6 linked regions of the Homo sapiens genome follow. The protein of the gene in region 5 purifies or fractionates together with the protein of the main gene of each other region. This does not show direct contact. Each region holds a gene or a part of one and is shown on either strand. Other genes may lie near its edges.

The links.
Region 1: the proteins of RTBDN (region 5) and TTC19 purify together in Homo sapiens (affinity purification with mass spectrometry; 3 studies listed by BioGRID and IntAct, with this or other methods). This does not show direct contact.
Region 2: the proteins of RTBDN (region 5) and AMD1 purify together in Homo sapiens (affinity purification with mass spectrometry; 2 studies listed by BioGRID and IntAct, with this or other methods). This does not show direct contact.
Region 3: the proteins of RTBDN (region 5) and GAS6 purify together in Homo sapiens (affinity purification with mass spectrometry; 3 studies listed by BioGRID and IntAct, with this or other methods). This does not show direct contact.
Region 4: the proteins of RTBDN (region 5) and ZER1 purify together in Homo sapiens (affinity purification with mass spectrometry; 3 studies listed by BioGRID and IntAct, with this or other methods). This does not show direct contact.
Region 6: the proteins of RTBDN (region 5) and UBAC1 purify together in Homo sapiens (affinity purification with mass spectrometry; 3 studies listed by BioGRID and IntAct, with this or other methods). This does not show direct contact.

What each region holds. Positions count from the first base shown.
Region 1 is NC_000017.11:16,002,745-16,006,463, reverse strand, and holds part of TTC19 (tetratricopeptide repeat protein 19, mitochondrial isoform 1 precursor), read right to left. Parts: intron 3,672-3,719; coding exon 3,633-3,671; intron 2,634-3,632; coding exon 2,577-2,633; intron 2,264-2,576; coding exon 2,202-2,263; intron 1-2,201. UniProt on the Homo sapiens protein: Required for the preservation of the structural and functional integrity of mitochondrial respiratory complex III by allowing the physiological turnover of the Rieske protein UQCRFS1.
Region 2 is NC_000006.12:110,888,237-110,891,955, forward strand, and holds part of AMD1 (S-adenosylmethionine decarboxylase proenzyme), read left to right. Parts: intron 1-99; exon of another isoform or gene 100-170; intron 171-620; coding exon 621-747; intron 748-2,017; coding exon 2,018-2,120; intron 2,121-3,719.
Region 3 is NC_000013.11:113,825,904-113,829,622, reverse strand, and holds part of GAS6 (growth arrest-specific protein 6 precursor), read left to right. Parts: intron 1-911; coding exon 912-1,076; intron 1,077-2,458; coding exon 2,459-2,627; intron 2,628-3,719. UniProt on the Homo sapiens protein: Ligand for tyrosine-protein kinase receptors AXL, TYRO3 and MER whose signaling is implicated in cell growth and survival, cell adhesion and cell migration.
Region 4 is NC_000009.12:128,733,928-128,737,484, reverse strand, and holds part of ZER1 (protein zer-1 homolog), read left to right. Parts: intron 1-2,053; coding exon 2,054-2,151; intron 2,152-3,557. UniProt on the Homo sapiens protein: Serves as substrate adapter subunit in the E3 ubiquitin ligase complex ZYG11B-CUL2-Elongin BC. Acts to target substrates bearing N-terminal degrons for proteasomal degradation with the first four residues of substrates being the key recognition elements.
Region 5 is NC_000019.10:12,828,090-12,831,607, forward strand, and holds part of RTBDN (retbindin isoform 1 precursor), read right to left. Parts: intron 2,591-3,518; exon of another isoform or gene 2,523-2,590; intron 2,340-2,522; exon of another isoform or gene 2,193-2,339; intron 1,909-2,192; coding exon of another isoform or gene 1,891-1,908; coding exon 1,722-1,890; intron 865-1,721; coding exon 780-864; intron 679-779; coding exon 568-678; intron 1-567.
Region 6 is NC_000009.12:135,944,291-135,948,009, forward strand, and holds part of UBAC1 (ubiquitin-associated domain-containing protein 1), read right to left. Parts: intron 3,616-3,719; coding exon 3,508-3,615; intron 2,082-3,507; coding exon 1,979-2,081; intron 1,708-1,978; coding exon 1,599-1,707; intron 961-1,598; coding exon 738-960; intron 1-737.

The sequences.
Region 1 (3,719 bases), on a different chromosome or scaffold from region 5:
AAATCAATAATCAGCCATTTACCTTTTCTTCTTTTTTTTTTCTTCCTTCTGTTGAGATGGAGTTTCGCTCTTGTTGCCCAGGCTGGAGTGCAATGGCGTGACCTCGGCTCAGAGCAACCTCCACCTCCGGGGTTCAAGCGATTCTCCTGCCTTAGCCTCTCGAATAGCTGGGATTACAGGTGCCCGCCACTATGCCCAGCTAATTTTTGTATTTTTGGTAAAGACAGAGTTTCACCATGTTGGCCAGGCTGGTCTGGAACTCCTGACCTTAAGTGATCCACCCACCTCGGCCTCCCAAAGTGGTGGGATTACAGGCGTGAGCCACTGCGCCCGGCCCATTTACCTTTTCACAAATTCTTTTTATCTTCATTTTTCCAGCTCAGTTTAAACATTATCAGTAAAGGAAGTGTAAAATGGGAAGAGGGAACTTTGCTTAAAGTCTAAGTAGTGTCAAATCTGCCATTTCTCAAAGCAGTTTTTTTAAGTCATCCATTTAATATAACTTAGGACACAAAAAGCTAGGAATGCTGCCCTAATTTTAATAACTGACATAGCCAGCAGTATTCATCATCTCCCACTAACAGATGGCCTCCAGTGAATCAACTTCTCCATGTGTGAAAGCCTTACCCCTGTTCAAAGTAATACTACCCTAAACAGTTCAGGCCGCCCTACAGTGAGGATTCCAACTGTTGACCTCATACAGCTTCTGAGGAGCTTTAGTCATTTTATATTTCTTTCAAGCTATAAGTCTCTGATAAAAGTTTCTTTTGCAGAAATGGGACTCCTAGCTATGGCAATAGAAGTCATTTAACCCAACTCTGTAGCCCTGGACCCTCAATCAACTGGAGAGGGTTGAGTCAACCCAAGCAGGCCGACTGACTGCTGCTTTTTACAGAGATGCAGAGGAAATGTGACAGAAATCCCTTCTCCATTTAGGAGCTCAGCTTTGGTTCTTTTCTTCAGTTTTGGCTCTAGTTTCTTACAGAAGTGGCACTAAAAAGCTCACCTGTTCTCTAGTGCTTTGCCAGGGGAGAACTTATGACCCTACTGTTCTGCTCTGTTCTCAGAAGAACAGAAGCATCCCCTTCCTTCCCTACGCTCAAAACTTGGCAAGAGGGCCCTCTCTAGCCATAACACAGGGCAAGTGGACACTGCCCAGAAGACGCTCCCAGTCGGAGCAAGAGGTCTACAAACAATTCCCCTCATAACCTATATCAGCCTTTCGAAGCCTCAGATCTGGCCATGTCTTTTCTAGTCTCATGCTTCTCTTAATAAAACAAAATGAAAAGTACAGAGTACCATGTAACTCAGAGGCTAATTGTTACTAGCTTTCACCTCTAGAAGACTATGAATTTGTCTTACTCAACAATGTTTATTAGGCTCTGGGCTTCTTCTTACCCTAGGGATTCATACCCAATCAAGAACTAGGCATGTTTGTTACAACTCCAAGAAAGATTGACCAAGCTGCAGTGTTCCCTGGCATGGGCCAAGCTCAAAGCTCCTCAAAAGACTTGAAGTCAAAGGCTCCAGGAAGCTCTAGCCTATCTAGTGTCCAATCAAAATGCAAGGAGACTATGCAGGTCCTGATGAGAACAAAGGAGCTGGTGAGTAGGACAGTAGGGAACAGTGCCAGGGCCTGGCCTCAGTGAGCACCCTTTCTACAGCATCAGGCTCCATGTCACTCCAAACCTCTCGCACCAACTTCTGCACCACTAAAACCTGAAGGGAAGCTAGTCTTAGGTCTCTCCCTAAATTCATCCCAAATACAACTCTCTAGAGGAGTTCTCTGCTTACAACCTAGATGCTTCATCTTTGAACTCTATTTATACCAGCAAAATGGCTTCTTCAGAGTATTAATATATTATCCCCAGCAGCTTTCACACTGCTCTTTCCTCTTCTAGGAAAAGTTAAACTAAAGTTCTAACTCTAACTTCCCTTCCCACTTCAAGCAGCAACAGAAAACTTAGTTAGTTTTGTCACAGGGCAGCCAGAGATGTTGTGTGCCCCACTAGGCAGGCTGATGGAAACAGTAGGGGCAAACTGGAAAAAGACTGACAATTTCAAAGATGAGGGATGGAACACTTTGAGTGTGACACCCAATTTCTGGGAGACCCAGATGACCAGTAGACAATGAATATTATGTAACATCCCAGAGTCAAAGTTTCCTGCCCACAGTCCTACTCCCTGGCTGCTGTACTTACCTGTTCTGCGCAGCATAGATACTGGCCAGCTTTAGGGAAATTTCAATTATTGCATTGTCCTCCTGTGAGAGAAAGAGAATGAAGGGAACTCATAACAAGTAAATTTTTTCATGGCATATTTCAGATCAACTTCCAGACTGACGGTGGCCTCAAAGCCACAGTCTTTATTCTTTTAGAGTGATGAGCCAACTGTGAATTCCTTGGCAAGCATGCTGTTGCATTTAGTGAAAGAATGGCAATTTGTATAGAGATCTCAGAAGGGAAACTCCACCTTTCCTGACCAAAGCATGTGGTGGGGCTAGGAGGAGTTTTCAGGAGACAAGACTGTTTTGAAAACTGCTTCAGTGAGGGGCCAATACTAGGCAATGTCCTTACCTGCTTCATGCCCCCTCCAAGGAGGTAACTCATTGTTGCTTTAAAAAGTTGTTCAGCCTAAAAGCATAAGGAAAAGATTTTTCTTTTAATTGGGCCCCATTTTATATATATATATATGACCCTGGATTCTAAGTGCCAGTCTGATGCAACATTCCTTGTAAAACCCATATACCCACACACACGCACACTCACACACAGAAAAGTACCCTTTTGAAGCGAAAACAGATCAAAATATCAGGACCCTCAACATCCTCTGTGTACCTTAAACTACTCTCTGATGAGTAGAAAACAACCTCAGAGATTAAGTTCTTATCCAAACCCACTGTGGCAGAGACTACAAACTGTCTCCTAATAGTCATTCTCTTCTCCATCTTTTTGATTACAGAGTCCCCTCGATTTAGCCTGGGAAATATGGTGAAATCCCGTCTCTACAATAAATAAATAAATAAATAAATAAATAAATAAGAAAATTAGCCAAGTGTTGTGGCACACGCCTGGAATCCCAGCTACTCAGGAGGCTGAGGTGAGAGGATCAACTGAGCCTGGCAGGTCGAGGTTGCAGTCAGCCATGATTAAGCCACCGCACTCCAACCTGGGCAACAGAGCAAGACCTTATCTTAAAAAAAAAATTCAGTCAATTTTAGCAGATTGGACACCCTTAAGTTAGATATGGTCATATGATAAAATTTAGGCCAAGGGATGCAGGCAGAAAGAACGTGAACTTCTAATCATGTTTTATAAGGAAGCTGCTCACAGTCCATCTTCTCCCCCTTCCTGCAGACTGGAGGTGAGTCAGCTCACCTAGGCAGAGGAGGGCTTATCTTAGAAGAAACCTGGACTTCTGGATCAGAGAGCAAAGGTGCCTATGTCTGTCTGCCTTCAGTCTTTAGCCTATCTCTGGACTAACACAATAAAGAGAAATACACTTTTATCTTGTTTGAGTCACTATATTCTAGGGTCTCTTTGTTATAGCAGCTTAGCCTGTACTCTTACTATTACAGTTCCCTTGAAGCTACTCCTTCATAAATTCAAGATATTACAAAGCAATTTACTTACATTTTCAAGCTGACCCCGTATAAATGCTAAGTTGGCCATCTGAAAGCAAATTACAAATTGTTTTTCAGTTTAGAATACTGTGTTCCT
Region 2 (3,719 bases), on a different chromosome or scaffold from region 5:
TATTCCATAAATACTTTTAATGCTTATAGTATATATTGTGATGGGCCTTGCTGGGGGATACTGGACTAAACAGCCCCTCCCCCCCTTTTTTTTTCTGAGGCGGAGTCTCAGTCTGTCCAGGCTGGAGTGCATTGGCGCAATCTCCTCTCACTGCAACCTCTGCCGCCCAGGTTCAAGCGATTTTCTTGCCTCAGCCTCCCAAGTAGCTGGTATTACAGGCGCCTGCCACTGTGCCCGGCTAATTTTTGTATTTTTAGTAGAGACGGGGTTTCATCATCTTGGCCAGGCTGGTCTTGAACTCCTGACGTGGTGATCCACCTCGGCCGCCTAAAGTGCTGGGATTACAGGTGTGAGCCACTGTGCCTGGCCTCTCTCTTTTTTTTTTTTAAACTAAGTTTATATTATGAATATACGAATGTTTATCAAAATGCTTACCATGTGCCAAGCCCTGGGGATGTTTTGTATACTAGAAAAGGAAAAGAATAATGTGTTACTTGCTTCCTTGAGATCCTAATATTTAAAAGTACTAGCCAAAATTGTAAATGATAATTAAATTGGTTGATTGCACCCTCAGTAGTACATTAGTATTGTTATAATATTGTGACTTTTTTCAACTGCAGTGAGAGTAGCATGTTTGTCTCCAAGAGACGTTTCATTTTGAAGACATGTGGTACCACCCTCTTGCTGAAAGCACTGGTTCCCCTGTTGAAGCTTGCTAGGGATTACAGTGGGTTTGACTCAATTCAAGTAAGTAAGCAAACATTTAAATATTTTTCAGGCATAAATGTTAGCGTTCTTATCCTGTAATATGCGAAGTAAATAAATTTATATACTTACTGCCTTTGTTACAATGCATGCAAACACGTGGTAAGGTGTTCATACCTTAGGAAGAGATCTGATTCTCAAGAACAGCAGAAAATAGGAAGCAGAGAATGAGTTAGGATGAAATTCAAATGGGAGAAAGAAATGAAGAAGCCAGACACTTCCAGTAGTTAATTTCTTAACATGGCTACTTATAATAATAGAGAAATGGTAAGAAAAGAAGGAAAAGCAAGAAAAATGTCGTTACTGAAATTGTCCAGTCTTTATAATGAAGAGTTAGGATGAAGAGCAACAGTCAGTATTGAGTTAAATTCTTATACTTTTCAAGAACTAAGGTGTTTTTACCTAGGGTATAATTTTCTGATTAGCAGTTGTTACATTTTATTTATTTTTTATTTTTTTGAGATGGAGTTTCGCTCTTGTTTCCCAGGCTGGAATGCAATAGCACGATCTCAGCTCACTGCAATCTGCACCTCCCAGGTTCAAGTGATTCTCCTGCCTCAGCCTCCCAAGTAGCTGGGATCACAGGTGCCCACCACCATGCCTGGCTAATTTTTTTTGTATTTTTAGTAGAGACGGTGTTTCACCATGTTGGCCAGGCTGGTCTCTTAACTCCTGACCTCAGGTGTTCCACCCACCTCAGTCTCCTAAAGTGCTGGGATTGCAGGCGTGAGCCACTGCACCCGGCCTGAATTTTAATCTTTAACTTCATAAGGAAAGGATGGATTGTCATTAGTACTCAATACAGTTTTTGTTGTTATGAATTGATCCTTGTAAGAAATCTAAAGCAATGTGTGCTTAACCGATGCTTAAAACTAATATGTTATTCCCCCCAAATTTTTGCTTATATGACTATTAATAAGCTCAGTTTAGAAACTACTGTTCTAGAAAGGAATATACTTGGTGTTAATAGTTGTTATGACCCATCATCACTAGACTGGGCTTTTTAAAAAAAAGAGAGAGAGAGAGAGATGGGGCCTCAGTATGTTGCCCAGGCTGGACTCCTGGGCCAAGTGATCCTCCTGCCTCCTAATAGCGAGACTACAGGCATATGCTACCATGCCAAGCTAAAATATTTGAGTTTTGATTTTGCCGAGTTTTTGATATGTGGACAATAGTTGATTAGCTTCGAAAAGTGATAGAATTCTACATCTAAAGTCATCTTTTTTTTTCTTTCTTTTCTTTTTTAATAAAGAGCTTCTTTTATTCTCGTAAGAATTTCATGAAGCCTTCTCACCAAGGGTACCCACACCGGAATTTCCAGGAAGAAATAGAGTTTCTTAATGCAATTTTCCCAAGTAAGTTTAAATAAAATATAAACCTGTTGTCTTCTTAAAGATAGAAAGTGCAACCTCAGAGATCTTTCTATATGAGAGCATACTTATGCATATATAGCATTCTACACACACTAATACTTGCTTTTCTTGTGGGTTTTTTGGTTTGTTTTAGACAGGGGTCTCATTCTGTCACCCATGCTGGTGCAGTGGTGTGATCACAGCTCACTGCAGCCTCAACATCCCAGGCTTAAGTGATCCTCCCACCTTAGCCTCCCAAGTAGCTGGGGCTACAGATGTTTGCCACCCCACCTGGCTAATTTTTTTTTAATTTTTAGTAAAGACAAGGTTTTGCCATATTGCCCAGGCCGGTCTTGAACGCCTGGGCTCAAGGGATCCACCTGCCTTGGCCTCCCAAAGTGCTAGGATTACAAGTGTGAGTTACTGCACCTGGTCCATATTTACTTTGACTTAGATGTTTTGGGAGTACAGTAGTGATCTTTATATAGCTTGTAATTCAAAATATGCAGAATTTATAAAGAACATTAAAATATCAGATAAAATATTTTTAGTTAAGATTAATAGCTTATTGCAAATTATGTATACACATGTAAAAATAATTGTGTATCATAAATCAGTGCTGTTTAAATGATGGAATTTTAAAATGTAGAATTGATCACCTGCCACCTCTGATTTTTCATACAGCATAGAGAGAGTTCATCTTCATCTGGCCATTCACTCTACTTTATGTCTCACTCAGTGGTTCTTTTTGCGTTTTTGTTTGAGACAAGTTTCACTTTGTCTCCCAGGCTGGAGAGCAGTGGCATCATTATAGCTCACTGCATTGTCAAACTCTTGAGTTCAAGCACCCAGCTAATTTTTATTTTATTTTTAGTAGAGATGGAATCTTGCTGTGTTGCCCAGGCTGGTCTTGAACTCCTGCCCTCTAGCAGTCCTCCAGCCTCAGTGGTTCTTAACATACAGATCATAATGTCCTTTGACAATATGAAGAAGGATATGATTCCCTTCAGAAAAATGCCTAGTGCTCTGCTCCAGCATTTTATATAATAATTGACCTGGCTTTTTAAAATTGCACAGTGTAAATTAGTGTTTCTTGAATGAAATTCGTAAGGGTTTCTTTCATCCATTTACTAAGCTTTTATTTATAGAGGTCAGGGAACAAAGGTTATCTGATAACATCCTTACTTCCTAGATAAGGCTGAAAACCTAAGATAATTTAGTAACTTTGCACAAAGTCGCTCATAAGCATGAAAATTGAACTTAGCACATCTACTAATATGAAACCAAACCAGGCTAATCAGAGTGTTGGGTATTTACTGCAAATACCCGCCAAGTCAGTCGATCCTGCTTATCTGGGAATTTACCTACTGTTTCCATTCCTTTCACTGATGACATTTCTTTTTTCTTGAGATGGCGTCTCGCTTTGTCACCCAGGCTGGAGTGGAGTGGCGTGATCTTGGCTCACTGCAACCTCCGCCTCCCGGGTTCAAGCAGTTCTCCTGCCTCAGCCTCCCAAGTAGCTGGGATTATAGGCATGTGCCAACACGCCCAGCTACTTTTTGTATTTTTAGTAGCGATGGGGTTTCATCATGTTGGCCAGGC
Region 3 (3,719 bases), on a different chromosome or scaffold from region 5:
GTGAGGATCAGGTGGTCTCTCTGAGGTTGGGACCCTCTTGGCTCAGGTGTGGATCAGGTGGTCTCTCTGAAGTTGGGACCCTCTTGGCCCAGGTGAGGATCAGGTGGTCTCCCCGGGTCAGGTCCCTCTTGGCCCAGGTGAGGATCATGTGGTCTCCCTGAGATTGAGACCCTCTTGGCCCAGGTGAGGATCAGGTGGTGTCCCTGAGATTGGGACCTTCTTGGCTCAGGTGTGGATCAGGTGGTCTCCCTGAGGTCAGGTCCCTCTTGGCCAGGTGAGGATCAGGTGGTCTCCCTGAGATTGGGACCCTCTTCGCCCAGGTGAGGATCAGGTGGCCTCCCTGAGATTGGGACCCTCTTGGCCCAGGTGAGGATCATGTGGTCTGCCTGAGATTGAGACCCTCTTGGCCCAGGTGAGGATCAGGTGGTCTCCCTGAGATCGGGACCCTCTTGGCTCAGGGGAGGATCAGGTGGTCTCCCTGAGGTCGGGACCCTCTTGGCCCAGGTGAGGATCAGGTGGCCTCCCTGAGATCGGGACCCTCTTGGCCCAGGTGAGGATCATGTGGTCTGCCTGAGATTGAGACCCTCTTGGCCCAGGTGAGGATCAGGTGGTCTCCCTGAGATCGGGACCCTCTTGGCTCAGGGGAGGATCAGGTGGTCTCCCTGAGGTCGGGACCCTCTTGGCTCAGGGGAGGATCAGGTGGTCTCCCTGAGATCGGGACCCTCTTGGCTCAGGGGAGGATCAGGTGGTCTCCCTGAGGTTGGGACCCTCTTGGCCCAGGTGAGGATCAGGTGGCCTCCCCGAGGTCGGGACCCTCTTGGCTCAGGAGAGGATGAGTGTGGTTTTTCTCAGTTGGGAGCCCCTTCAGAACGTGCACTCCCATCTTTTCTCATGGCGCTGCCTCTCTTCAGATCTCTGTTGAGGAGCTGGCGCGGAATCTGGTCATCAAGGTCAACAGGGATGCTGTCATGAAAATCGCGGTGGCCGGGGACTTGTTCCAACCGGAGCGAGGACTGTATCATCTGAACCTGACCGTGGGAGGTATTCCCTTCCATGAGAAGGACCTCGTGCAGCCTGTGAGTACTGTACCTGTCCCTGTGTAGACGCGCCGTGTGCTGGGATCCCGGGAACGGTGTCAGGAAGCCTCAGTCACACCCTGCCCTGTGTTTACCATTAACCAGGTGTGAGGAGGACCTAGAGGAAGGAAAGGTTTCCTAGAGTTTGACAAAGTCGCCGTACAGCTATGTCATTAATTTTACCATCTCTTTTTATGAGACCTAAGTTTTCATCTGAATTGATAATAAAGTTGTCTATTTTTCAATGGAGATAAGACACAATTAAATTATTATTATTTTTTTTGAGACGGAGTCTTGCTCTGTTGCCCAGGCTGGAGTGCAGTGGCGCGATCTCGGCTCACTGCAAGCTCCGCCTCCCGGGTTCACGCCATTCTCCTGCCTCAGCCTCCCAGGCAGCTGGGACTACAGGCGCCCGCCACCACGTCCGGCTAATTTTTTTGTATTTTTAGTAGAGACGGGGTTTCGCCGTGGTCTCGATCTTCTGACCTCGTGAACTGCCCACCTCGGCCTCCCAAAGTGCTGGGATTACAGGCGTGAGCCACCGCGCCCGGCCGAAATTATTCTTTAACAGAACAGTAAACTTTTTTGGACAATTTCCAAGAACATTTTGGGTTTTGTAACTCTGCCGTGAGTCTCATAAGGGGAAAACAGCCATGATGGGCGGTCAGTGTGGGCCATTGCTCCAGGTCCCGCCTTCTCTCCCCTTCAGCACAGCACACGCCCGTGCCCCCGACCTGTGTCTCCAGCCCCCACGTGCTGACGTCTAAGCCGTCATCCTGGGTATTTTCACTTCCACACCAGGCAGGAGAAAGGCACGCATGTCTTCGCGTCTTTGGGTGCTGAGTGTCGGCAGTGCCTGTGCTGAAGCCACCCCTTCAGTGTTGTGAGGGGCACCTGCTCCCCAGGCCCACAGACTGCCTGGTGCCGGGACCTTCGGTGTTGTGAGGGGCACCTGCTTCCCAGGCCCACAGACAGCCTGGTGCCGGGACTTTGCCTGGCTGGACCCTCCTCGTTTCACAGATAAGGGGGTTGCCCTGATTTGCCCACAGCCATATTGAATATTGAATAATTCACATGAGTGTTGGATGGTTGAACAATCCATACTCTTTGACCTTAGACCCACATGGCCTTTTCAGTCCTTTCCTAGCTTTAAAATGAACCTTTAGTTCTTGAGCATACACCAGTGGAAATAGGTATTCTGCAGTGAGGCGTTGTGTAAAGTGAAGAAACCTTCTGTGAAATGGCCACCACCGATGGGACTGGCCCGTTTCTGCCGTAGAGCTGCACATACCAGGGCCGCGAAGGCGCCACCCACCGACTGGGGCATCCGGCATGGGGCTTCTCGCTCCCAGGAAGCCACGGAGATTTCTCTGCCTTTCCAGATAAACCCTCGTCTGGATGGCTGCATGAGGAGCTGGAACTGGCTGAACGGAGAAGACACCACCATCCAGGAAACGGTGAAAGTGAACACGAGGATGCAGTGCTTCTCGGTGACGGAGAGAGGCTCTTTCTACCCCGGGAGCGGCTTCGCCTTCTACAGCCTGGACTACAGTAAGTCTTGGCTCTTACCGTTGGGGTGGCTGTGGCTGCACCTTCAGACAGGCATACGCTGAAAGCAAGCAGACGGCCTCAGATGGCAGCGTCAGGACAAGCTGAGGCTCCTCCGGTTCCGGGGCAGGGATGGGTGGGCGGGGTGGGCGGAGGTGCGGGCAGAGGCCCACCTCTCAGGATGGCCATGCAGGTCACTCAGTTCAGAGTCAGCCAGTGAAGAAGAAATGAGAGAGATGTGCCGAGAAGGTGCCTGCGAAGCCAGTGCCAGGAGGCCGGGGAGAGAAGGTGCCTGCGAGGCCGGCGCCAGGAGGCGGGGGAGAGAAGGTGCCTGCGAGGCCGGCGCCAGGAGGCCGGGGAGAGAAGGTGCCTGCGAGGCCGGCGCCGGGAGGCCGGGGAGAGAAGGTGCCTGCGAGGCCAGCGCCGGGAGGCCGGGGAGAGAAGGTGCCTGCGAGGCCGGCGCCGGGAGGCCGGGGAGAGAAGGTGCCTGCGAGGCCGGCGCCGGGAGGCCGGGGAGAGAAGGTGCCTGCGAGGCCGGCGCCGGGAGGCTGGGGAGAGAAGGTGCCTGCGAGGCCAGCGCCGGGAGGCCGGGGAGAGAAGGTGCCTGCGAGGCCGGGGAGGCTGGGAGCCTTACAGGGTCCTTTGCAGAAAGTCCGGAGACAGCACAGCCTTAGGACTCGTCCAGGGGCACAGAGAAGCTCTCGGTAACATGGTGGACACCGTGGTCACCGATGACCCGGTGAGACAGCTACAATGGGAGGTGTGTAAAAACAGCCGTGAAGCTGCCTGGGGGACAGTGAACCTAGGCCTGAAAAAGGGAGGACAGGGTGGATGTGAGCTGCTGGCCCAGTCCTGTGACGCCACGCTGCCGCCCTCCCCAGTGCAGGCTCCGGGGGTGCTGCTGTGAGGATAGTGTTACTGCTCGGCCCCACCCTGCCTCACATTCCCACCCCACGTGGGCCCCACTGGGGCACCACAGCCCTGCCCTATTCCTGGACACCGAGCCGTTTATGGTGAAGCCCCCACACGCACAGAGGGCAGGCAGCGCCCCCTCCGTCAGATCTCAGGGCTGCCGGCCCTCAAGCACCCAGCAGG
Region 4 (3,557 bases), on a different chromosome or scaffold from region 5:
GATGGACATTTCAGTTGAAAACCCATACTGGGAGGAACAGGCTGACATTGGTAGCGTTGCCAGTGTGCCAAGTACTATAGTTCTTGGGGAGAAAGGAAGCGGAATCGCTGGCCCAGGAGTTTTGCACACACGTGTTTCAGGCTTTTGGACCATGACTCCAGGCTGGCCCACAGAAGGCCCTCGTCAGAAGAGCAGTCACAGGCCGGATGCGGTGGCTCACACCTAGAATCCCAGCCACTTTGGGAGGCCAAGGCAGGAAGATCACTTGAGCTCAGGAGTTTGAAACCAGCCTGGGCAATATAGTGAGCCCTCACCTCTACAAAAAAAAAAATTTTTTTTTTGAGACGGAGTCTCGCACTGTCACCCAGGCTGGAGTGCAATGGTGTGATCTTGGCTCACTGCAACCCCCGTCTCCCAGGTTCAAGCGATTCTCCTGTCTCAGCCTCCCGAGTAGCTGGGATTACAGGTGCACGTTACCATGCTCAACTAATTTTTTGTACTTTAGTGGAGACGGGGTTTCACTGTGTTGCCCAGGTTGGTCTCAAACTCCTGAGCTCAGGCAATCCACCCCCCTCAGCCTCCCAAAGTGCTAGGATTACAGGTGTGAGCCATTGCACCTGGCCAAAAAAAATTTTTTTTTAATTAGCCAGGCATGGTGGCTCACACCTATAGTCCCAGCTCCTCAGGAGGCTGAGGTGGGAGGAACACTTGCATGGCCTGGAAGGTCAAGGCTGCAGTGAGCTGTGATCATGCCACTGCACTCCAGCCTGGGCAGCAGAGCGAGACCCTTTCTCCAAAAAAAAAAAAAAAAAGGCCAGGCATGGTGGCTCACGCCTGTAATCCTAGCACTTTGGGAGGCCAAGGCGGGTGGTCAGGAGTTCAAGACCAGCCTGGCCAACAGCAAAATGATGCTCTAACCAAAAATTAGCTGGGCATGGTGGCATGCACCTGTAGTCCCAGCTACTCGGGAGGCTGAGGCAGGAGAATCATGTGAACCCAGGAGGCAGAGGTTGCAGTGAGCCGAGATTGCACCACTGAACTCCAGCCTGGGCGACAGAGTGAGACTCCGTCTCAAAAAAAAAAAAAACAAAGAAAAAAGGGCTGGACATGGTGGTTCACGCCTATAATCCCAGCACTTTGGGAGGCCAAGGCAGGTGGATCACTTGAGGTCAGGAGTTCGAAACCAACCTGGCCAACATAGTGAAACCCTGTCTCTACCAAAAATACAAAATTTAGGCCGGGCGCGGTGGCTCACGCCTATAATCCCAGCACTCTGGGAGGCTGAGGTGGGTGGATCACGAGGTCAGGAGATCGAGACCATCCTGGCTAACACGGTGAAACCCCGTCTCTACTAAAAAATACAAAAAAATTAGCCGGGTTTGGTGGTAGGCGCCTGTAGTCCCAGCTACTCGGGAGGCTGAGGCAGGAGAATGGCGTGAACCAGGGAGGCGGAGCTTGCAGTGAGCCGAGATCATGCCACTGCACTCCAGCCTGAGCGACAGAGCAAGACTCTGTCTCAAAAGAAAAAAAAATGCAAAAATTAGCTGGGTGTGGTGGCACACCCCTGTAGTCTCAGTTACTCAGGAGGCTGAGGCAGGAGAATCGCTTGAACCCAGGAGGCAGAGGTTGCAGTGAGTGGAGATTGCACCAGTGCACCCCAGCCTGGGCAACAGAGCGAAACTCCGTCTCACAAAAAAAAAAAAAAAAAAAAAAAAAAAAAAAACCAGGTCACACGTGCTTCTGTTCCCAGGGTGCCTCTCCCCTCTTCCCCACAGGCTGGGTCTCTGCTCCTTGCTGAGGTCTCCAGCTTTCTGCTCCTCCTAATCTGGGTCCCTTGTGCCTCCCTCATGTGCTTGTGCCTTTATCCTCTCCAAGGGAACCTTGTTGTGCAGCCTGCCAGTGGGATGCAGGGCCAGCTGTCCCTTCTCCCTGGCATCCTGCCAGCCTATCATGGTTGGTCACTAGGATTCTCCAGTGGGAGGAAACCTCAGACAAGAAAAGACACACTCCCCACCCTCAGCATCCACAGTGACCTTGATTTCTTTTCCTGCAGGTCATTTGAACCAATTCTCCGCCTCCTTCCCCAGGGAATCTCTCCTGTCAGCCAGCACTGGGCAACCTGGGCCCTGTATAACCTCGTGTCTGTCTACCGTGAGTGCCAACTTGTCCTGGGTTCAGACACTCATCCAGCTGAAAGCAGATGTGCCCTCAGGGAGTTTGTAGTCCAGGAGGGGGGCATTAATTGCTGCTGTCAGCTTTTGTGCCTCAGAGCAGAACCCTCCACTTTCCAGCGTTTGTGGGACACCCAGCTTAAGGGCTCACTCCTGCCTCATCACCAGAAGCAGGCCTGGCAGGCGAAATACCTGTGCAGAGTTCCTAGACAGCTTTCTTAATGCTTCCCGCTTCCATGTGCAGGAACAGTCCAAAATCTCCATGCCTGCTGGGCTCAGTGGTGCACACCAGCTATTCAGGAGGCCGAGACAGGAGAATTGCCTGAGGTCTGGAGTTTCCAGCTGCAATGACCTATGATCATGCCTGTGAATAGCCATTGCACTCCGGCCTGAGCAACATAGTGAGACCCCCATCTCCAGAAGTAAAATAAAAGTCTCCATGCTGTCTGCATGAAAAAAAAAAAAAACACATACCATCAGCTGGTTCCAACCTGGCAGGTCACCAGAATCACCTGGTAAAAATACAGATAAATCTTAGTCCTTGGATTTGTTGAAAAAGAATATCCAGAGACAGGGCTTAGAAATCTATATTTTTACAGAAATTCCTCAAAGGATCACCATCTTTAGGAGCCACTGGTTTCACTGGTTTGGGTGACATCTTCCATAGAATGAGCGCTGGAGGCCAGGCATAGTGGCTCACACCTGTAATCCCAGCACTTAGGGAGGCTGAGGTGGGAGGATTGTTTGAGCCCAAGAGGTTGAGACCAGCACAGGCAACACAGCGCAACCCTGTCTCTACTTAAAAAAAAAAAAATTAGTCCGGGTGCAGTGGCTCATGCCTGTAATCCTAGCACATTGGGAGGCTGAGACGGGCAGATCATTTGAGGCCAAGAGTTTGAGACCACCCTGGCCAACATAGTGAAACCCCGTCTCTACTAAAAATACAAAAATTAGCTGGGCTTGATGGCACGTGCCTGTAGTCCCAGCTACTAGGGAGGCTGAGACAAAATAATCGTTTGAACCCAGGAGGCAGAGGTTGCAGTGAGCTCAGATCGTGCCACTGCACTCCAGCCTGGGTGACAGAGTGAGACTCTGTCTCAAAAAAAAAATTATATCTATTATATATATATATATATTTTTTTTAAGATTTTATATATATATATATATATTTTTTTTTTTTTTTTTTGAGACGGAGTTTTGCTCTGTCGCCCAGGCTGGAGTGCAGTGGCGCGATCTCGACTCACTGCAAGCTCCGCCTCCCGGGTTCACGCCATTCTCCTGCCTCAGCCTCCCGTGTAGCTGGGACTACAGGCGCCCGCCACCATGCCTGGCTAATTTTTGTATTTTTAGTAGAGACGGGGTTTCACCGTGTTAGCCAGGATGGTC
Region 5 (3,518 bases):
TCTCAAAAAAAAAAAAAAGAAAAAAAGGCCGGGCACGGTGGCTCACGCCTGTAATCCCAGCACTTTGGGAGGCCGAGGCGGGCGGATCACGAGGTCAGGAGTCTGAGACCAGCCTGACCAACATAGTGAAACCTCGTCTCTACTAAAAATACAAAAATTAGCCGGGCATGGTGGTGTGCGCCTGTAACCACAGCTACTCAGGAGGGTGAGGCAGGAGAATCGCTTGAACCCGGGAAGTGGAGGTTGCAGTGAGCCGAGATTGCACCACTGCACTCCAGCCTAGGTGACACAGTGAGACTCCATCTCAAAAAAAAAAAGAAAGAAAGAAAAGAAAAGAAATCGCAGGGCTATGAAAAGCCACATTGCCATATGGCAGGTATCTTAAAAGCTGGGGGCTTCTCATGCCTCGCCCCTATCTACCTGGGCTCTAAACATTAAGCTGCATCTCTTAAACCTTGGCCCTGTTGGAGGCCACTCCCCTTTACACAGAAGGCCAAGCAAACTGCAGGCTCCGCCCTCTTCCCCGCCCAAGTCACAACCCACGCCCCTTGCCCCCGCGTCTCCTACCAGGCCTGGCAGAGCTCCTCGCAGAGCGGCTGTGCCTGGCGTACCCCCAATAGCCGCAGGCGGAAGCGACTGCGAAGGGCACGTTGGAGGTGTTCCAGGAAGGATTCGCATCTGGACGTTGGGAGAGATAGGGTCGGATGGGTCAGGACCCGAGGGAGTTCCTGGGCAATGGGCAAAGTACGCGAGAAAACGGTGGAGGGTGCTGTACTCACTCAGGGCTCGGCACTCCACAGCGTTCTGGATGGTTTCCAGGGCCCGATGTCTCTGTTGTGTCCATCTCTGAGGGACAACAAGGTCCTGGCAAAGGGGAACCCTGTGAGCTAGGGTCTTGGATATTCAGGTAAGGTTTGGGAACTGAGGCCTGGGGATCCCCTGGACAGGGGAGACAACAATTACATCAATCCTCACAAACCCATAACTTAAGACCCTTCCTTTGGAATGCAAATGCAGCTTCAAGTAGTAATAATCATTTCTTGTTTATAATAATCAACTTACTTGTCATGTGCCTGGTAGTGACACATATACTTAATCCTTTTCCTTTTTTTTTTTTCTTTTTTTCTTTTGAGACAGGGCCTCACTCTGTCACCCAGGCTGGAGTGCAGTGGCGTGATCTTGGCTCACTGCAACCTCCACCTCCCAGGTTCAAACAATTCTCGTGCCTAAGCCTCCCAAGTAGCTGGGATTTCAGGCGCATGCCACCTCGTCCAGCTAATTTTTGTATTATTAGTAGAGACAGGGGTTTCACCATGCTGGCCAGGCTGGTCTCAAACTCCTGACCTCAAATGATCTGCCCACTGCAGCCTCCCAAAGTGCTGGGATTATAGGCGTGAGCCACCGAGCCCTGCTCATATGCTTATATGCTTAATCTTAACAACAGCTCTGCGAGGTATATTTGTTATTTCTCTCTTTTTGGGGGTCCATGTGAGACCCAGAGAGGTTAAATGACTTCCTCAGGATCACACAGCTACAAAGTGGCAGAGTTGGGATTTGAACCCAGGCAGTCTAATTCTTATCCACCATTCTTCAGCACTATCCGTGCCTCCCACCTTGGTGGCCATGCTAGGCCCCTCTCATAAGGAAATTCTAACATTGTCATGGCAGGGTAGGTGTGGGTTTCTGGGTGTTGGTGGTGAGGCAGGGTCTGGGGTGCTCACCTGCCAGGTGCAGCTTGCCTTTGCCCAGATCAGCTGCCAGCCCATGGTGTTGCTGGGACCTGGCTTGGAGTGGGCGGCTCCCTCCACAGGCTTCTAGCAGGATCCATGCCAAGGTCAGTTGCAGCACCCACGTCAGGCCGATGGGTCGCATGTGGACCCTGCAGTCCATGTCCACCTGAGATAAGAGCTGGCAGGCATAGGGTGGGGTTCAGCCATCCCTTTCTGTGAGCTTAGGGTGGCACCCACCCAGTGCATACCCAAGAAGCAGTGCCAGGCAGAGTAGGGAAAGTGCAGCTGAGGAGGAGGCTGGGGCAGTGGCCAAGGACGTTCAAATCCCAGGAGACCATCAGGGCCTGCCTCCAACCTAGGAGCCCCCCTCCCATCAGAACCATGTCCTCTATGTCCCTTCAGTGCCACCCCAACCAAGCTTAGACCACAGTGGCCCTCCTCCCATCCAGCAGGATCTCCCACCTTTTTAGTCTTCAAGAGACCCCTTCTTTTCTCAGAATGAAGGGGACCTCCCTAGGTCTTCCAATCCCCCTCTCCTGTTCAGTAATTCCTCCCTCTCTTCTATGCGGCCTCCCTCCTCCCTCTCTCGCTCCCTGCCGGCCCTTCTCTGGGTCACCTTCTCTCGGCCCACAATCGGCTTAGGGGCCACCCAGAGCTGGACCTTTGGGACCAAGGCTGGTGTGGCAGGGCTCAGGTTCTGTCACTGGGGCCCAAAGCCCCGAGGCAGGGACAGCTAGCGGTCTGTGGAGACAAGACTGTCCCCTTCCCGCCTCCCCGCATTCAGCCCCTCACCTGTTGGCTGGATTGGGGTCTAGAGGCCGCTAAGACACCTCAGGATCCAGTCCAGGAAACTGGCTGCTGAAAGGGGCGTGGCTTAATGCAGGGGCGGGACCTCCCACCGTCCTGCCCACACTCCAGCTGACCAAAGGCTGGCCGACTTGGGGCTGGTGTGTATATATCCTTGTGTTTGTTTTTATGTTCAGCTTGTGGCTTAAGCTCTGTATCTATATATGTGGGGAGTGTGTGTGTGTGTGTGTGTGTGTATGTGTGTGAGGAAGGTGTGTTTGTGTGGCCTATAGCCTGTGTGTGTTCCCAGGCACCTGTGTCTTTTGTTTGTGTGGCTGTGTGTGTGTTGAGCATGTATGTGTGTTTTTGTTGTATGAGGTTATGTTTATGTGTGTTTCTTGGTGGAGTGGTTGTGTGTGTGTGTGTGTGTGTGTGTGTGTGTGTGTGTGTGTATACGTTCAGAATCTGGGGGAGGATTGTGTGTCCCAAGCAATGTGTTTGCAGTTGAATAAAACAGGATCTTAATAAATGTGAGAAGGGGAAATGTAGCATTGGGTTAGTGTCCCTGCAAAAATGTTGGAAGTCAGTGGATAAAGGTTTTTGACCATGAAGGTTGACCATGAATGAACAAAGAAATGTCATGTGCTGAGCAGGATGTGTTTGTGTGCACACATTATGTGTCCTTCTGAAGTTTCTGTGAATGTGTGTTGCTTGTGAACACTCCTTTAACTCATCCATTCATTCAACAAACATTTATTGAGCACCTACTGTGTGCTAGATTCTGGGGATGCAGTAGTGAACAAGACATGAAAATTTCAGCCAGGCATGGTGGTTCACACCTGTAATCCCAGCACATTGGGAAGCTGAAGTAGAAGGATCGTTTGAGCCCAGGAGTTTGAAACCAGGCTGGCCAACGTGGTGAAACCCCATCTCTACTAAAAATAATCAAAAATAGCTGGGCATGGTGGCACATGCTTGTAATCTCAGCAGTTCAGGAGGCTG
Region 6 (3,719 bases), on a different chromosome or scaffold from region 5:
CTACAGCCTGGCCACATGGAACTCCATGGAAAACACGAGCTCCGCAGGTGAGGCCACAGCACAATGTCACACACCCCAAGGAAACGATCAGTGCCACACGAGACGACAGCATGCAGATGGAGCAGATCTGCCATCTGAGCATGTCGGAGACAGACAGAAACCTCCAAGGAGGAAGTAAAACCCGAATCAAAGAACAGGAGAGAGAAGGAAGAATGGGGAGATGAGGCGCGGGCGAGGAAGGTCCACACACACAGGCGCAGGGACCCTTCAGCCCTGCAGACTGTGCCATGGAGGCGGCTGGCAGCCTGAGCGGCCCCTCGCTCATGGACACCCCCGACGGCAAATGACCCTCCCGGTCTCTGGGCAGGGCCCCCACCCCGCAGAGAGGCTGCCGAACAGGGGGGGCTTGTGGATGAGTGGTCAGAAGGAACTGTAAAATATCAAGTTTTTCAAAAGGTGACGAATGTGGCAACACAGAGGAAACTGGGGCGCCTGGATTCAAGCCAGGATAACTTACAGGTGTGCTCAGAAACTCGGGCCACGGTCCCCAGGCCCACCGCCCCCAGGCTCGCCATTTCCCAGGCCCACCTGTAAACCCCTTCCCCAGCTTCTCTCTCTCCTGGGACAGGAGCCAGCTCAGCCCAAGGTCAGCCATGCAGCCCCAGCTTCCTTTCCATGGCGCCACCTCAAGGGAAGACACAGCGACTCTGCCTGGCGACAGGTCTAGTAACACATACCCGAGCATCAGCCCGAAACTCCCTTTTCCTCCGGATCTTCTTGAAGATTTCCGTCAGCTCATCTCTGGCCTCCTCATCGGTGGCGCTGGCTCCCGCGGCAGCCTCGGAGGCAGCTGCTGTGGCCCCCTCGGCCTCTGGGGGAGCTTGGCCAGGAAGAGGCGTGTCTATGGTCGGGTCTTCTGCGTGTTCAATTAGCCACTCCATGGCCTGAGGCACCGACATGCTGCAAGGCAAGAGACTCTTTCCAACATCCCCAGACTAACGGACCAGGGCCTTCGCCTCCTGTCCATTCCCAAGAAGAGCCTCTGCTATGGTAGTGACTTCTCCAGCATCAGCTGGTGACCCTTATAACAAGAACCTGAATGAACACAGGTGCGACGGAAGCGCTGGTCCTTGCCTCAGACTACCTTGAGACCCTGGGCAGAATCAGAAGCCCATGTCTAAGGAGAGGCAAGCGGACCCAGAGATATCTGCTGAGGGCTTAGATAGGGACCACAGGGGGAACTGCCCCCGGCTGCCCCTGGATCTCGGATTATTCATTTTAGATCTGAACACAGAAGCAGGGCAAGTAACTCACACGGGAATCCTGAGAAGACTGTTAGAGGCCGTGTCCCTGCTACGAACGGGATTCACCTTGAGTTCTCATACAACGGCCCAAAGAGAATTTACACAACGACTGTTCTGTCACATTCACCCCAAAAACACTTTGGAGGCACATATTTAAGGTACCTCTTCAAAACCCCACGTTAGAAATGATTCAGTCAAAGAGTTTAGGGTAGGAGGACGTCACCCACGGTGGGAGCCCCACAAAACCAGGCCCCAGGTGTCTCCGGCAAGGGAAGGAGGTGGCCCCCCACGCACTGGTTCAGCTGAAGGGCCTTGGTGGCTCTGTTCTCCGGAAAGCCCATCTCCGTGAGCTGCCGCAGGGCAGCCTCGTCCACACGCTCATCCTCGTCCTCGTCCAGCATTGCTGCAGGGAGACGACAGGGCCATGAGGGCTCCAGCCTCAGGTTCAGGGGCCTTATCTGAGCACAAACATTTGCAGCAATTATCTGTCTGAGCTCCACCTGCCCGCCCTCAGGCACATCAACAGGAGTTGCCGGTGAGGCAGGCCCCAGGCCCTCATCAGCGCTTCCATAAAGCACTGAGGTTCCGGTCAGTGGTCAGTGCGTGGAGCTGCAGACGCTCCCCAAGGCCGGCAGTGAACCGCCCTGGAATGCAGCATCGGGGTTGACTCATACCATTCGCCTTCTTAAACAATTCCACTGCATCTGGGTTCAGCGCTAACAGCTTCTGCGCCACCTCGATGAGAGACACCAGTATCTTCCGGAGTTCTGTCTGGAACTGTGGTGAAAAAAAAGGAGATCAATTCTCTAAATGTCCACCAAACCTACTTGGATCTATGACTTGCTCCCCTGTCCTAGAACTCTTGATTCTGAGAGTTGAGATGACATTGCTTTCTTGCAAGACAGCAGGATCAGCTGAGGGCAAGGCAGGGGATTGGCAGGGCCAAGAGCCTCCCTGCAGGTGGGACTGAAGCCAGTGGAAAGGGACAGGAACGCCTGGTGACGGTCACTCAGTGCTGGCCCGATACTCAGCCTGTGCCCTGTGAGGAAACCGTCGGCCCAGCTGGCGCAGGTGCAGGGCAAGCTGAAGACCCTCTCTGGCTTCACTGAAGAAAACAGAATCATCTGAGGCTCCACCCCCATGAGTCTGCCAGCCCCCAGTGGAGGCATGGCTGCCACACAGCGTCTGCGGCGGCCATCACTGTCCTCCCCAGGCAGGAGGAGCCGTGGGATGGACCGGAGATGCCCTCCAGAACAGCTCCTGGCTACAGGGCCTAGAGGTCAGGCGTCAGCTGTCCCTACTCTCACACAAGTGTGAGCCTTGGTGCGGACACCACACTAGAGAAATACCTCTGAGCCGGACACACACAGGATGGGAGACACACATGCTGGCTGCTGGGGAAAAGCCACCATGCCCTGGTCAGCACAGAACTCTCTGGAAGACACCCCAAGAGGTTCATTCCTAAAATGAAACAGGGCTTATAGCAGTGCCCTTAGGTTGGACTGGCATCAGATGAAGTTGGAAGCCAGCCGTCCTCCCACCCCGGCACAGCACGTGCCTGCCCTGCCTGCTGCGGCGTCCACGTGAGCACTGCAAACACTTTTCTTTTTTAACTTAGAATGTTCTGACCCAAAATAACTCACGGGTTCAGATTTGTGTGTTTTTTTTTTTCTTGAGACGGAGTTTCGCTCTTGCTGCCGAGGCTGGAGTACGATGATGCAATCTCGGCTTACTGCAACCTCCGCCTCCCGGGTTCAAGTGATTCTCCTGTCTCAGCCTCCTGAATAGCTGGGATTACAGGTGCCTGCCACTACGCCCGGCTAATTTTTGGTATTTTTAGTAGAGACGGAGTTTCATCATGTTGGCCAGGCTGGTCTCGAACTTCTGACCTCAGGTGATCCACCCGCTTCGGGTTCAGAATTCTATCTAAACGTTTTGCCAAACTCAGGGCCGGATTGACGTTTTCCCAGGGGTATCTATCTTTTCAATCCTGCCTTCAGATGGCTTTCCAACTCTTACTTGGAAATAATTTTTGATTTACAGAAAAAATGCAAAATAGTGCAGTCCTACAGACCCGCTCACCGGCTTCCCCAAATCCTCCCAGAGAATCTCCTCTTGCTGCCCCGCCCCGCAGGAACCCCCCCACAGCAATCCCCCACACGGGGACCCCATGCACCCGCCGCCGCTCTGGGCTGACACTCACGTCTCTCATGTTGGTCTGGACCGCGGCCCGGTCCATGTTGTAGGAGGGCAGGTTGGCGGTGGCCCGCAGTATGGCCTCTTTATCTGGAGCTTTCTGGTCTTGTTTTTTCTACACAGAAACGTAATCAGAAAGTCTGAGGTGAACGTAAGAGCAGCAAAAAGACGATGACAACTGAATCAGCGGAGCTCTGCCCAAGAAAGACTCCGTCTCCT